2 separate regions of the Homo sapiens genome follow, and region 1 is linked to region 2. Evidence: fine-mapped expression QTL. Tissue or cell type: whole blood. Region 2 holds a variant in brackets; the other region holds the start of a gene. All regions are shown on one strand. Distances are between the middles of the regions.

The links. PIP is the estimated chance that this variant, and not a neighbour inherited with it, causes the effect.
Region 1: it holds the start of TRIM7, and the variant in region 2 is fine-mapped to the expression of TRIM7 in whole blood (TOPMed, PIP above 0.99).

What each region holds. Positions count from the first base shown.
Region 1 is chr5:181,200,436-181,208,435 of GRCh38, reverse strand. TRIM7 (tripartite motif containing 7) reads left to right here and starts at 3,240. Exons shown (of 7, transcript NM_203293.3): 1 at 3,240-3,847; 2 at 4,796-4,891. The coding sequence starts at 3,326. It overlaps TRIM7-AS1 (TRIM7 antisense RNA 1), which reads right to left. Exons shown (of 2, transcript XR_001743050.3): 1 at 7,420-8,000; 2 at 5,319-5,848. It overlaps TRA-TGC3-1 (tRNA-Ala (anticodon TGC) 3-1), which reads right to left and starts at 1,568; the gene lies at 1,497-1,568. TRK-CTT2-2 (tRNA-Lys (anticodon CTT) 2-2) reads right to left here and starts at 681; the gene lies at 609-681. RefSeq lists enhancers at 328-417, 798-857 and silencers at 1,558-1,657, 2,962-3,281, 3,542-3,871, 3,912-3,981, 5,793-6,087.
Region 2 is chr5:181,227,822-181,235,821 of GRCh38, reverse strand. TRIM41 (tripartite motif containing 41) reads right to left here. Exons shown (of 6, transcript NM_033549.5): 2 at 4,983-5,078; 3 at 2,933-3,163; 4 at 2,387-2,409; 5 at 2,059-2,186; 6 at 14-1,648. The coding sequence ends at 1,047. Among named protein-coding and RNA genes, the nearest start is that of TRIM41, 8.5 kb to the right of the region's middle. The variant C/T (reference allele first, on the strand shown) is at 3,666.

The DNA of each region.
Region 1 (8,000 bases), 27 kb after region 2:
AATGTGGTATATATGTGCAATGGAATGCTAATCAGCTTTAAAAGGAAGGAAATTTTGACACATGCTACAATAAGGATGAATCTTGAAGACATTAAGTGAAATAAGACAATTTAAAAAGGAAATATAAGGATGAATCTTGAAGACATTAAGTGAAATAAGACAATTTAAAAAGGAAATATTGCACGATTCATCTTATATGAGGTATCTAGAGGAGTCAAATTCAAAGACACAGAAAGTAGAATGGTGGTTGCCAGCGTCTGTGGGCAGAGGGGAATGGAGAGTTAATGCTGAATGGGTTCAGAGTTTCATCTGGGAAACAGGAAAAAGGACTGGAGACTGATGCACAACCATTTAAATGTATTTAATGCTACAGAACTGTACAGTTAAAAAGTGTTAAATTTTGTTGGGCATATTTTACCACAGCTTTAAATCCTAATTGTATCGCAAGATAATGGGTAGATAATGAACAGTGGAGCGCCCGCAAGAGTATTACACACACAGAAATGCAAGACTTCAGAGCAGATTATTTTCCTAAGAGCTGGTCTACTTATAATATATTTTTAGGTATGGCTAGTAGTCGTAGATTTAGGACTAAAACGACCAGTTGCCGCCCAACGTGGGGCTCGAACCCACGACCCTGAGATTAAGAGTCTCATGCTCTACCGACTGAGCTAGCCGGGCGCCCGATGACCGTATCTCAACAATTTTTCATTCTAGATCAGAGTCGGAGTGTATTCAACTGCGGGTTTGAACTTGGATTTATTTGGAGTGTGATAAAACTACTAAAGTGCCTCGGCTCCTGGGAAATTCAAACTCTGCCGTCAGTGCCTGACCGTCCCTCCCACTTACGTCCGTTTCCTGCCCCTTCTACCCTACCAGCGACCAAGCCATTTTCTACCCGCGATGAAGCTCACGGCACGGAGATGGAGAAACGTGCACCCTGACGCCACTGGAGCTCTCACCGTGTGGATTTTTTTTTTTTTTTTTTTTTTGACAGAGAAGACTCTCAAAAAATGGGCCTACCTTTCACCACGAACTGCGGCTCTGTCGCCCAGGCTGGAGTGTCGTGGCGCAATCTCGGTTCACTGCAACCTCTGCCTCCTGGATTCAAGCACTTCTCCTGCCTCAGCCTCCTGAGTAGCTGGGATTACAGGCGTGTGCCACCACTCCCGGCTAATTTTTGTATTTTTAGTAGAGACGGGGCTTCTCCATGTTAGTCAGGCTGGCCTCAAACTCCTGACCTCGTGATCCACCCGCCTCGGCCTCCCAAAGTGCTGGGATTACAGACGTGAGCTACCTCACCCGGTCAAGTACCGTGTGGATTTTAAAACAGGAGGGAAAGACAATGGGGCCCAGAGGAGGGCAGGGGCCGCCGCGGTCTTTTTCTACTCCGCAGACTCCACCCTCTGGGTTTTTTCTTGGAGCTCTTCAAACATGCTGGATTTCAAAATTTGAAAGGAAAATCGAAAACAATAATTGAATGTGCAAAACTACACTGGAGATGCCGGGGATCGAACCCGGGGCCTCATACATGCAAAGCATGCGCTCTACCACTGAGCTACATCCCCACCTACTCTCAGCAGCTCTCCCAGATGGTCCCTATTGGTCGCTTAACTCAGGACACCGGGAGTGGAAGGCAACCGGTACGCGCTGGGTCTCAGCCGCTGCAAAAACCCGGCATCGCAGGGCAAGAGTTGTTCCAGCGTCCTCCGCTGACTCCAAACCAGCGGGTCTTGACCAAGGGATTCCAAGAGAGAGGATTAGGCCCGGCTAAGCACCTGGGAGCAGCTGTGGAAAAAGGAGAGACAATCATCAGGCACGATGCCAAAAATGAACTGTGACCTGAAAAAGAGAAGAAAGGAAAATTGTGCAGGATGCTACGTTTTGTTTTTTAAAAGTGGGGGTTGAGGCAATAAAATACGGAATATTTGATTAACGTAATCCAGAATTGTAAAGTTGATTGCTCGGGAGGAAGAAAGGACTGGGACACAGGCGATGGGCCTACTTTCCACCGTGAACTGCGGCTCCTCTTTTGAATTTCGAACCAAGTTTAATCCAAGAAAACCTTACTGAGCTTGCCAAGAACTGCTCTAAAAACAGGATTCAGCCGTGAACAAACCTAGTACAGTCCATCTGAAAGCTGACATTCCAGAGGAGATAGAGTGCGGGCACAGAGCCGGCCCTGAGAAGGGAGCGCGCTAAGAGACGACTTTACACAGTGTGCGCGTTCGGGGCGGGCTTCGTGGGCAGAGACGTTTGAAACAAGACCTGAATGAGGTGGGAGGGAGCATGCAGGTGGTGGGAGAAAAGAGGTCCACGCAAGGGGAACAGCCAGCGCAGAGGCCACGGGGTTCAGGAACAGCAAGAAGATCGGGGACACTGGGTCCTGGAAGGCCCTGAGAAGGGAAGTCGGGAAGGAGGGAGCATCCGGGGGCAGATGAGGTGAGGCGAGGTCTTCGCCTTTGGGTGAGAATTGCTGAAGTTCCCGGTGACATTGGCAAGGGCGGTTTCTGAGGAGGGTGCGGGCGAAAGCTTGATCCAAGTGGCCTCCAGAGTGAGCGAGGAGAGAGGGTGTGGAAGCGGATAACACAGGCAGCTCTGCTGCGGGGCTGTGGAGACAGCTGGGGGACAAGAGAGCGCTGAGGTTTGTGTGTGTGTGTGTGTGTGTGTGTGTGTGTGCGGTGGGGGGGGAATAATACTGAATACAATGGGAAATTATAAATGTGTTATCTGTTCAAATACTAAGTAAAGAGTAAAGAAGCCGGAGGACAGTCGCAGAAAAGGTAATGGAATGGATACAAGGCCACGCTTGCGCGTGAGGGGACAGGACCAGGTTCCAGTCTCTAAATTTAACTCAGCACAGGGCCGGGGCGAACCTGCGCTGGCGGAACCTGACACCGTGGCCCGAGCGCCAGGCCCTTGCCCCGGCGATGCTGGGTCGGCCTCGGTCGGAAACCGGGAGTGGCGCTGGCAGCATTTGTGCGCCCACCTGTCGCGGCCCGTTTCCCGCGGCTGACTGGGTCAGGCTGGGGCGGCCTGGAGAGTCTGAGGGACGGGGGCGAGGGGGAGAGGCCGCTGGCCAGGGCGGGGGCTGGTGGAGCGCAGATCCGGGGCGCAGGGCGCTGTCCCGCACTTGAATGGCCCGTAGTCAACGTGCGCCTCCCCTCCCGGCTCCCAGCCGGGCGCGCCCCGGGCTCGAGTCTCTGCCTGCCCAGTGGCAGCCCCGCCCTTCCTCTCCCAGTGGGCCCTCGGCGCCCAGCTCCGCGTCCTGTGAGGTCCAGTGGCCGCCCAGGCGCGACCAGATCTGGGTGCGCGGAGAGCGCGCATGGCGGCTGTGGGACCGCGGACCGGCCCCGGAACCGGCGCCGAGGCTCTAGCGCTGGCGGCAGAGCTGCAGGGCGAGGCGACGTGCTCCATCTGCCTAGAGCTCTTTCGTGAGCCGGTGTCCGTCGAGTGCGGCCACAGCTTCTGCCGCGCCTGCATAGGGCGCTGCTGGGAGCGCCCGGGCGCGGGGTCTGTTGGGGCCGCCACCCGCGCGCCCCCCTTCCCACTGCCCTGTCCGCAGTGCCGCGAGCCCGCGCGCCCCAGTCAGCTGCGGCCCAACCGGCAGCTGGCGGCAGTGGCCACGCTCCTGCGGCGCTTCAGCCTGCCCGCGGCTGCCCCGGGAGAGCACGGGTCTCAGGCGGCCGCGGCCCGGGCAGCGGCTGCCCGCTGCGGGCAGCATGGCGAACCCTTCAAGCTCTACTGCCAGGACGACGGACGCGCCATCTGCGTGGTGTGCGACCGCGCCCGCGAGCACCGCGAGCACGCCGTGCTGCCGCTGGACGAGGCGGTGCAGGAGGCCAAGGTGAGCGCAGCCCCCACCCACCCCGTGGGTCCCCGGGACCCCCTGACTTGGTCCCGCGCTCCCGCGCACGGGGTGCAGAGAACAGCCTGTCGATCAGGAGGCCCGGGTGAGCCCCTCCCTTCTTTCTCCATTCCAGGAAGCCCAGCGCTGGTTCCCGGGCTGAGCGCGGTTCTCTGTCACCCCCAACATCACCAATACCCCCACCCCACCCCCACTGCGTTTCCCTCTGGGCCAGATACTGGGCCGCCTGCGCGACGTCCCCCACGGACTTGGCGATGTTCTTCCTGTCTGTTCGGAGCCTCTAGCCTGGTCTGCGTCTCCGCAGCTCTCTGCCCGCGGGAAGTCTCCGGCACAGCCACGCAGCCGCTGCCCCCACTCTTATCTCTTTCCCCGAAGCGGGCTCTGCTCAAAGTCCCCACCTCGTGGAACTGAGTGAGAGGACCTCGCCAAGATGTCCAGGGAGGGGGCTCCCGGGTTAAGCCGCGCACCTAGAGCCGTCTGACTGTGCCAACGCTGTCGATTCTGGGGGCCCTTTCTTTGCTATTTTCTCGCTGAGCCTCAGCGAGGGTGTGTGCAGGGGTGAGGGCGGGGCGGGGAGGCTCGGGCGGCAGTCCCCAGTCTCTCCTTGCTGGCCCATCCTGCTCCAACTCTCCCAGCCACGGGGCTTCCTGGTGGGGGGGCGGAGAGTAGAGGAGACGACTAGGGGTAGGGCTGCCGGAGCTTGTGTTTCAGTCTGGCTGGTCCAGCAGATGCTTTTGGGGAAGCAAGATCCCGAGACCTTCAGAGTCACCTCGCAGTGTAACCTGTAGCCTGTAGAGATGACTTCTACCCGGCCTCCCCCTCAGTGAGCAGGGCCTTCCCTTTCTCCTGGCTGGCTCCAGGAAGGCAGAGGTGGGGGTTTCCAGAAGCCCCTCACCCCCACCTTACATTGTTTCCCTTCATCTACAGGAGCTCTTGGAGTCCAGGCTGAGGGTCTTGAAGAAGGAACTGGAGGACTGTGAGGTGTTCCGGTCCACGGAAAAGAAGGAGAGCAAGGAGCTGCTGGTGAGCCAGGCACCCGCAGGCCCCCCGTGGGACATTACAGAGGCCTGAGAACTCAGCACCAGGGCTCGGTGTGTGTGGTGTTGGAGTGTGTGCTATGGAACCGCAGAATCGATTTCAGAAAGATAATAGAGTCCATATTATATAGGGTGTCCACATAATTGTTGTACAAACCAGAGCTTTTTAAAGTGAAAAGCAGTGCTAAAATAATTATTGCAAAACAACTGGCTTAAACTGGAGCTGTCCCAGCGAATCAGGACGCTCAGTCACTCTGATATTACGTAACATACCAGTTAGGGCCTGCGGAAGCATCTTGTAATGGAACACATTACTATTTCTGCAGAGAAACATGGATATTCAATAAGTGGGAATATTAATACAATAAAGAGCCTCATGGCATGTTTTGTCAACAAAACAGTAGTGAAAAAAATTTCATGTTCACAGTGTTTTTATTTGAAATCGAGGCTAACGGAGAAGGGGCTAGAGGGCGTCAGAGCTGCTCCCTGGCTCTGGCAGAGGGAGGAAGTTTAGGGTCTTGGGTTTACAGTAGCCCCTGCTGCACAGCCCAGGGTCTTGGGTACTGGCACCTGCCTCTACCCCAAGTTGGAATGATATTTTATCTTCCTTAGGGTAGAACAGGAAAGTGAAACGAGGGCTCATTTTGGTTAAGATAAGCAAACATGAGGCCTGGCAGGGTGGCTCACGCCTGTAATCCCAGCACTTTGGGAGGCCGAGGTGGGCGGATCACGAGGTCAGGAGATCAAGACCGTCCTGGCAAACACGGTGAAACCCCTGTCTCTACTAAAAATACAAAATAGCCGGGCGTGGTGGCGGGCGCCTGTAGTCCCAGCTACTCCGGAGGCTGAGGCAGGAGAATGGTGTGAACCCGGGAGGCAGAGCTTGCAGTGAGCCGAGATCGCGCCACTGCACTCCAGCCTGGGAGACAGAGCGAGACTCCACCTTAAAAAAAAAAAAAAAGATAAGCAAACATGAATCACCATCGGTCATTTTCTACCTTGCAAATTCAGTTCCTAGCTCAGTAAATAGGTGTTGAAAGAATAAAAGGATTGGCTGGGTGCGGTGGCTTACGCCCGTAATCCCAGCACTTTGGGAGGTCGAGGTGGGCGGATCACCTGAGGTTGGGAATTCCAGACCAGCCTGACCAACATGGAGCAACCCCATCTCTACTTAAAATACAAAATTAGCCTGCCGTGGTGGCACATGCCTGTAATCCCAGCTACTCGGGAGGCTGAGGCAGGAGAATCACTTGAACCCGGGAGGTAGAGGTTGCGGTCAGCCAAGATCATGCCACTGCACTCCAGCCTGGGCAACGAGAGTGAAACTCCATCTCAAAAAAAAAAAAAAAAAAGAATGAAAGGATCTACTAGGACCTGTCAAGGCAGGGAATTGAAGGAAGGTGAACTAGAGGACCCTCCCATCCTCAATGTCAGGAGGGGTGGAGGAGGAGCCTGGAGTTCAGACACCCTAGGGTCCTTTCCAGACCCTCAACTATATCTGTTATGCCTGCACCCAGTGTGCATCCCAGACCTTCCTACCTCATCACTCACTTTCCTCCATGAGGAAGAGCTCACCCTCTAGACCTTCATCCCTCCTCCACTGGAGAAATGACTCCCAATGCAGCTCTTCCCCCACTGGTTGACATCCAGGAACCAGAGGGCCTTCCCTGGCACCGGCGGCAGCTTCACAGTCTCTGACCGGAGTCCCCAGGCCTTGCTTAACACCTTCCACCTCTGTCCTCTCCCAACATCCATCCATCCACCCCCACATTCGTTTTTGTTGTTGTTTTGTTTTGCTTTGCTTTTAGACAGAGTCTCACTTTGTCACAAAGGCTGGAGTCGTTCAAGCGATCCCCCCACTTCAGCCTCCTGAGTAGCTGGGACTACAGGTGTGCACTACTACACCCGGCTAATTTTTAATTTATTTTTTGTAGAGCTGGGGTTGGGGGTAGTCTCCTGTGTTGCCCAGGCTGGTCTGGAACTCGTGGGCTCAAGCAACCTTCTCCCCTGACTTTGCCCCCCTCAGCCTCCCAAAGTGCTGAGATGACAGGTGTGAGCTCTACCTGTTCTTTGCAGCAATAAAATACTTCTGGATTTATGACACTTGTCTCATTTACAATACCCTGCTTAATGAAACATCAGAGGTAGAGCCCAACTATTGCTGCAACACAAAAGGGAGAAGGAATGCTCTTATTTGAAAATGCTCCTACCCCAGGGGACATCTGGCAAAGTCTGGAGATACTATATTTTTGGTTGTCAACAATGGGATAGGGATGCTATTGGCATTTCGTGGTAGAGGCCAGAGGGGCGGCTAAATGTCCTACAAGGCACAGGGCAGCCCCCTACAACCAAGAAGTATCTGGCCCAAAATGTCAACTGTGTTAAGGTTGGGAAACCCTGGCTTAGAGTATTTTGGCAAATACTGTTTCACTTGTGCTACCTCCTTGTGAGGCAACTGGCCGAGAAGCCTGGCTTAACACTTCCTGGTGATGTGTCTGTCTTTTGTCTCCTCACCTGTAAGACTTGAAGGGAAGTGCACCCTCCCCACTGGGCTGCCGTCAGGGTTGAGGGAGTTAATATCCATAAGGCGCTCCAGGCTACTGCAGCCTGCCTGGAAGCTGAAGGAAAGGTGGGGGCATTGTAGGACACCTTGAACCCAGGTCTCCCAACTTCACAGGACTCCCTTCCTCCGCCCAGGAGTTTTAAGGAAGAGGAACTTCCTGGTGGGACATATTGAGTGCCAAACGTGTGTTCACATAAAAAATCAAGAGATCAGGGCATGAGTCTGCATCTGAAAACTCGAGTAAAAAATCCGGTGTATGCTGTTAATGGAAAGAACAGAATATGACACTTGCATGCCGCATATTCTCACTTCGTTCCTTGGGGGTGTGCTGCTACCTCTGGTCACTGGCATCGGACTTTTCTTCCTTCTTTCTACTTTCCTACATCTCCCAAGTTTTGTATTTTGAGCATGTGTTAGCATTATAACTGCTAAACAGGAAAGATGGCCTTTAAAAAGAAAGTGAAGTGTAAAAGTTTGAGGGTGATGAAATAAATGTGCTTGAGGAAGAAAAAGCAATCTCAGTTTAATCCTA
Region 2 (8,000 bases):
AACAGACCTCACAAGAGAAGCAAATAAACATTTTATTTCCACAGCACGCCTTCCCTTTTCCCAAAGAACATGAGTTCACCTCAGCCATCAAAGCAGAGGGCGAAAGCTGCAAGTGACAAGGCAAGAGGCTCCTAGAAAAATAGATTATACCCAAGGCTCTCCTCCTGGGGACCCAAACCCGTCCCCAGGCTCCCCCTCAGAGCTTGCCAAATGGAGTGAAAGGCATGGAAAGGGGCTGGGAGAAAAGCCAGCTCCACTGAACAAAGGGGAGAGGAGCCTGGCAGTGAGCAGACCTGGGAGGGGTGTGGGGTGGGATGAGCTTTGCTCCTTGGTTGAGTGCTGGAAAAGGGAAGGGGGAAGAAATAATTTATGTTGATGTAATTAATGTAATGATGATGTAATGGTGCGTGGTTTCAATCATGGCGACCATTCCAGATCTCTCTCAAGTGAAGCTAAATTCTGGCCGGTCTATGGAGGTAGAAATTGAGGACGGAAGGAAAGTTTAGAATCCCTCCTCCCCAGGAGAATAGACATTTATTACCCAGCTCTACCCTTTGGCCCAGCCTGCCTCCCCAAATGGCTTCCAAATCCCTCAGCTAAAATCTGCATCAGAAAATGGAATTGGAATGGGGATGTTGCCTTGCCCAAACCCTCCAGCCTCAGAACTGATAAAGAGGTTGAAGAGCAGGGGTGGGGAAAAGGAAGTTAAGGAATGAAATTACAATTTCCCCTCATCCCCTACTCAAATTCCAGTCCCAGGGCTGGGCTAGGCAGACTGGGAGAGAAGACCAGGCAGCTGTTCTCATTATCAGGGACCCATGCAGACCTGTTGGACAGACATAGTAGGTGAGAGAAGGCTGAGCTGGAGGCCAGGAGGGTTCTTTAGGCTCCTAGAGGGAGAAGCAGGGGCCTGGGGTCAAGGGGGAGTGGGAAGCAACACAGTAACAAGCAGTGGGAAGAGCCTTTGAGCCCTCAAACTTACGGGCCACCCTCCACCACCCACCCCCCAAGTGCTGACAGAGGGGCCCCTGCGGGTGGCAGGATAATCAAGGGCAGAGCTTGATGCGGGTGCCCTTGGAGAGCACCCGGAAGAAAGGAAAGACACGCTCGCCCAGGAAGGCAGCCGAGAAGGTGTGCACGTGGGCTAGAGTCTCTGCGTTGTAGAAGCCCAGGCGCCCAGCTTCATAGTCCAGGTACACACCAAAGCGCCTTGGTTTCTCACTGGGGCTCAGCAGCGTCTGTTCTGTGGAGCTCTGGGCCTGATAGCGTTTGCCGTTGGTGCCCACGCACCACACTTCCCGCTGGAGCAGGGGCTGCTGGGGCAGGTGGAGCCGGCGGCGGCGATGGTGATGGCGCGAGGAGCTGGCATCCCCGCTGCCCACGGAGGAACCCCCAGGGCCCACCTTTTCCTTATGATGGGTTGATTCACGGGCAGCACCCACCGCCCAGCCCCGCCGCCCGCCCACCTCTACCTCCCAGTAGTGCCGGCCGGAGCGGAAGCCCTGGGCCCCCAGTACGCAGCAGTCGGCCGAGAAGCGCTTGGGATGGTCAGCAACCTCCTGCCGCCGCTCTGCCAGGCGGACCCCCCGGCGGTCAGGGGACAGCATCAGGGCCGGGTGAGCCGTGTCAGGGTCCAGCGTCAGGTCCACTTGGGAGGGAGGGAGGACAAATACGCCAGGGCTGGAACGGCTGTTCCCCTGTCAGCAGCCAACTCCACAGATTGGGCCCCCTTTCTCCCTGAATCCAGCTCCCCACACCATCCCAGAGGCCAGCCTCAGATTCCTGCAGGCTCATCTTGCTCCTCACTCTTGTTCCTAGGATACCTGACAGGTCTTCCCCCAGCCTGGCTCTTCCTGCCACTCCACCCCACCCCACCCTCCAGGCCTGCCTGCACTAGGTCTACCTGCTCATGGCTTGAAACCTCAACCTCAGAGTGGCTGCCTGGATCCTGCTCCATCTCAAGCCCCACAGTTTCCCTGGGGCCCAACTTCCCTCAGGACCCAGTCTCAGGTCTGTGAAGGGAAAGGCAAAGGAAGGTCGTGGAGGTGACCTCCCTACCTCTCGCAGCCTGACAGAACATCCGGCTCATTTTCCTCACGATGGCATCTGTCAGGAAGTCATGGCTATGGGGTTGGCACGGGTCAGGGGACCAGACCTCTGGGGGCTGCAGCTGTACCTCTTCACACCTGGAGGAAGGGGACCGGGCAGGGGGTGGGACCACGATATTCCCAGAGGGAAAAGCAAAAGCTGAGGGGAAGGAGAGGAGGGTCCAGGAGATGGAAACTCAGGTCCTGGGGAAGGAAGGAGAGGAGAGGGATACCGAAGAGAAGCAGGGACAGGGAACCAGATGCCACTGGGTCACGAAGGGCAAAGACTGGGAACACACCTATTGAAAGTCTCCTTGATGTCCTGGGAATAAGAGAAACAAAAAGAGGGAGAGGGAGAAAGAGATAAAGAGAGTGTCAGCTGCACAGGGACAGCGTTCCCCGATCTCCAGTCAGAGACTGAACCTGAGCAGGAAGGGAGAAGCAGCACCCTCACGGCCCTCAATGAACACACATCCATTTCAACCACCCCATGCCTCGCCATACCTAACTCGCCTCATCCTGCTGTGAGCCCAGGGATACTGTCATTTCCACAATACGACTTGCTCACCTTTTTCAGGATGTCACTGTCAAAAAGACTTTCCTCAACTGTCATTTAAACCTCTCCTACAACCGAATCTTCATGCTTTTCACTGGGTATAATCGCCACACATACCACATTCGACATTAACTCTGTTTCCAGCTTTAAAACATGTTTTTGGTCTTCAGGTTCAATCACTGTGGGTTCCTCCCAGGGAGAAAAGAGGCAGCTCTGGACAGGCGTTTGGTAAGCACTGCCTGACAGCCAACACAGAATGCTGGGGGAACAGGGAGGGGACATTGCTCACCTGGAGCAGCCGGAGACCCCCCTGCTGGCTCCGCTCCTGGGCCTCTGCCAGCAGGCGGCTGAGCTGGGCGGCCTGTTCTGCAAGGCGACTAGCCGCGGCTCCCGCACGCCCCAGCTGGGCTTCATGCATCTCTCTGAGACGCCGTTCCAGCCCTGCCTGCTCTTCAGCCAGAAACCGTGTCAGTCGCCCAAACTCCGAGGCCACCGCTGCCAGCTCTGACTTCATCTGGCTCTGGAATGGTGCAAAGGGGATGGCAGACACCACCTCAACACGTACGAAGATAACCTCCAGTTTTGCAACTACTACTTCTCAATGCAAGGCAAAGGAGCCCTACACTCCCCAGGTCCAAGATAGTCCCGGAAAGAGGCTCATCCCCTACCAGCCTTACCAGATACCACCCCCTTGCTCCCAGCACAGTGGTCTCAAACTCACTAACCTCTGCCTGGAACACTCCTCTCCACCTGACTCTACCTAAGTTGACTCATCCTTCAGGTCCAACCTTAAATATTCCAAGACAAGCCTTCCCTCCTCTCCAGATCTAAATCGGGACCATCCCCACAAATATCACTGTATCTCTCTGTGGCACATATAATATTGAAACGTTGTGTTTAAATGACGTAACTGTTAACATCCTTTCCCCCACTGTACCATGAGCTCCCACTGACAGGGACTAGGAATGTCTTTGTTTGCCAGGGTCCTCGGACCCTGACATAGTACCAATCAGAGTAGGCAC[C/T]TGGTAAAAATTTTTGAAATGAATAAATAAAAGAATTCAGGAATCAAAACATGAAGTTAGGGTCCCGACGCCATTAAACACAGTGACCTTAAGAAAGTCACCCAAAAGCCCCAGATCAGAACTCGGAAAAACTTTTTCTGTGAAGGTCCAGATAGTAAGTATTTTTATGCTTTGTGGGCTAAGAGGCAAAAATCAAGGATATTATGTAGGGACTTAATATCCTGTAACAGAAAAAACTCCTGCCCAGTCCCACCCTATTTGCCAGGGATGGCCCTTCCTGGGTGGTAGGCACACTTTTCACACAGCTACCATCGGCTGCAGACGCTGTGAGCAGCAGGCCAGAGGAGGGTCCCAACTGACCAGACGCGTGAGGGAACAGCCGCCACAGTCAGCTTCACTCTATGCCAGGGGCACACAGCTCCTGTTACCTCTATACCCAGGAGAGCCCAAAAGTATCAACTTGGGCAGCTGGCCAGAAGCACGATGACTTCCTACTCCCAGACAGATCCTACCATTCAGTGCCTAGCAGTCGCCAGCAGCAGAGTCCCTAACGTTCAGGTGGCAGTGAGCATGGGCCCTGGGTAGTGGCAAGGCCCAGGCACTGGCTGGGAAGGGAGGAGGGAAGAGGGACAGAAGGGGAGGTCCTGGCTTGGTCTATGAAGCTCACAGTGCCAGCCCATCCCAGCAGGACCTGCTGGGGTTATGAAAACAGGCGGGAGGTGGGGATGGAAAATGTATCTTAAAAGACTCCTTGGAGAAGGGCGAGCAATAATGGAAAAAAACAACAAAAAAAGCGGGGGGGTCGGGGTGTGCTGAGAAAACACTAGACTAGGAAATATTAGGTCTCTGCAGTGCTAACATACACTAAATCCTGCCCCAGCTTAAACACACTGGCCCCCTCTCAGGACACAGCAAGTGTCCCAGGACAGTGTCCGCCTCATGCTTAGGGCTGCTCTGCCCAGTGCCTGCATGGATCCTGGGGCCGGCAGCTTCTCTGATGGCTGCTATGTGGGTTTTGCTTTGCCCCCTTCAGGCTCTGGTGTCGGGTAGAAAGCCTGTTCTGCAGCCTTGGGCCAGGCACCTAGGCCCTCCAATCCAGGCCTCAGTTTCCACTCCATTTTGGAACCAGGAATGAACATGCCTCCTGATTCTCTAAGGCCCCGCTCTCCTCAGCACCTAGGGAAAGCATCTACCCCTCTCCCAGGCCTTAGCTGTCCCCTCCTCAGGGGACCAAGTCACTCCCTGTGAGAGTGGGAAGCCCTACCTTCCTTGCCTCGACTGTACTGCCCATCAGCCCCGTCGAGAACATTCACCCACCTTCAGTTCTGTCACTCGCCTCTCCTCCTTGGCTTTCATCTTCTGCACTGCCTCCAGGTGCTTCCTCAGTGGTTCCACGTGCCCCTGCAGTTTGGCCTGAGGAAACAGAAAAAGAAAAGTGGGGGCTGGGAGAGGCACCTGCCCTTCAGAGCCTACCTCTGCAATCCTCCCTATAGCAAGATGGGTCAAAGCCTGATCCCTACCCCCGAAAATGGGTGTCAAGTGAGTATTATACCTTCCTCCACTTTCTTCTTTCAGATGATGACAAAAGCCTCCAATCCCTCTGTGCACGTCTGCAGAAGCCCTGTGTGTATTTTTTTTTTTTTTTTTTTTTTTTTTTTTTGAGACAGAGTCTCGCTCTGTCGCTCAGGCTGGAGTGCAGTGGCACGATCTTGGCTCACTGGAACCTCCACCTCCCGGATTCAAGCGATTCTCCTGCCTCAGCCTTCCCAGTAGCTGGTACTACAGGTGCCCACCACCACGCCTGGCTAATTTTTTTATTTTTAGTAGAGACGTGGTTTCACCTCGCCATGCTACCCAGGATGGTCTCAATCTCCTGACCTCGTGATCCGTCCACCTCAGCCTCCCAAAGTACTGAGATTATAGGCGTGAGCCACCGCGCCCGGCCGGCCCTGTGTGTATTCTCTAAAGGTAGGAGCCTCAAGACTAGAGAGCTCCCACGCTCACAGCTGAGGGGAAGTGGCTTGAGCCCCGCACCAGAGTCTTTCCAGGGGTGCCCTCACCTTTGGTCCCCTTCCCCTTCACAGGCGATCTTCCCCAGAACTCTTCTCTCTAAATACTTTTCTGATGATTTTTTTCCTATGCTAAAACCTTTCCATGGGTCACCACCACTTCCAAAACATTGACCCCACACTTCCAGCCTCACCTCTACACTCAACGCCTTCCACACAGACTCTTAACACGTTTGACCACATAAAATTACTTGTCATTTCCTGAGTATAATTCCATGCTGTTCCCTCTGTCTGGGAGTGCCTTTCTCCACTTGGCCCAAGGTATTCTTCCTTTAAAACAGCTCCCTGAAAATGGCCCTGATCCTCCCCACCCCCAACATCCTCTGTGATCCCAAGAAATATCTAATACATGAGTTCCCAGGGCACCAATGACAGGTGTGCCTCCTCCAGGACACTGCGGAGTCCCTGCCCACACTCTACTTATTTCAACTTCTTTGCTTCTTTCTGCTCATCTGCTTTCTCTCCTGCTCAATTACTTGCTAAATGGCAAAGGACACCGAAACCCCTCTTCCAAAGGTTGTAACTGTTATAGCCAATAGGCACACGAGCTCTGTGTTTCTACAATTTGTAGCCAAATACTTTTCTTTAAAGGGCTGTTAGCCCAGAATGAGTGGAATAAGCCCTACCTATTTGCTCTTACCTTTTCTATGTCTTCTACTAGCCTGTCTCCTTTTCTTTGAGAGAGAATATAGGGTAGGAGAGCTCCAGCCTGACTCCAGTCAGGACCAGAGGGAAGTGAAGTGACCTCAGGCAAGCCATGCTTTCAGTTTCCTCAGCTTCAAATAAGAAGAGAATGGACCTCATGGATAGCACACTTACTGCAGTGCCTGGCATGTAGCAGAAGATCAGTAAATGTTATCTAATATTTGTTCCCTATACCTTAAGCTGCCAGTGACATCCTGATAATGACCCCTGAACTAAAGAGTTTACCAAGCCAGAGTGCAAACAGCAGTTGCTGCACAGGATAAGTGGTTGTAGACAAAATTACAGTAATAATGGAATTATAGTCAACTCGTGACAATAGCATGAACTACACAAAATTTGGCCTTCTGATATAACTTTCTACTTTTCTAGTCAATAATTTCTCCATTAATTCAGAATTTATAACGCTTAAATTTACCATTTACTGTTTTTTTTTTTTTTTTTTTTTTTTTGAGACAGAGTCTTGCTCTGTCGCCTAGAATGGAGTGCAGCAGTGCCATCTCGGCTCGCTGCAACATCCAACTCCTGGGTTCAAGCAATTCTCCTGCCTCAGCCTCCCGAGTAGCTGAGATTAAAGGTGCCCACCACCACACCTGGCTAATTTTTGTATTTTTAGTAGAGACAGGGTTTCACCATGTTGGCCAGGCTGGTCTTAACTCCTGCCCTCAAGTGATCTGCCCACCTCTGCCTCCCAAAGTGCTGGGACTACAGGTGTGAGCCACCGTGCCGGGACCCTAAATTGCTGACAAAAACAAAAATTAATAAGCACAAATTCAAACAGAGTTCTATTTAAGATATATTTCCTTTTTTTTTTTTTTTTTTTTTTTGAGATGGGAGTCTCGCTGTGTTGCCCAGGCTGGAATGCAGTAGCACAATCTTGGCTCACTGCAACCTCTGCCTCCCAGGTTCAAGCGATTCTCTTGCCCCAGCCTCCCGAGTAGCTGGGATTACAGGCACATGCCATCATGCTGGCTAATTTTGTATTTTTAGTAGAGACGGAATTTCACCATGTTGGCCAGGCTGGTCTTGAACTCCTGACTTCAAGTGATCCACCTGCCTCAGCCTCCCAAAGTGCTGGGATTACAGGCGTGAGCCACCACAGCCAGCCAGTTATAAGAGAAATTCTCAAAACATTTTTTCTTTTTTTTTTTGAGACAGAGTCTCGCTCTGTTGTCCAGGCTGGAGTGCAGTGGCGTGATCTCAGCTCACTGCAAGCTCCACCGCCCCCGGGTTCACGCCATTCTCCTGCCTCAGCCTCCCGAGTAGCTGGGACTACAGGCACCCGCCACCATGCCCGGCCAACTTTCAAAACATTTAACTGTCGGGCAGACACAGTAATCCCAGCACTTTGAGGGGCCAAAATGGGAAGATTGCTTGAGGCCAGTGGTTCAAGACCAGCCTGAGCAACACAGCAAGACCCTGTCTCCACGAAAAAAAAAAAAAAAAAATTAGCTGGGCATGATGGCACACACCTCCAGTCCCAGCTACTACTCAGGATCACCTGAACCCAGAAGGTCAAGGCTGCAGTGAGCTATGATCATGCTACTGCATTCTAGCCTGGCCA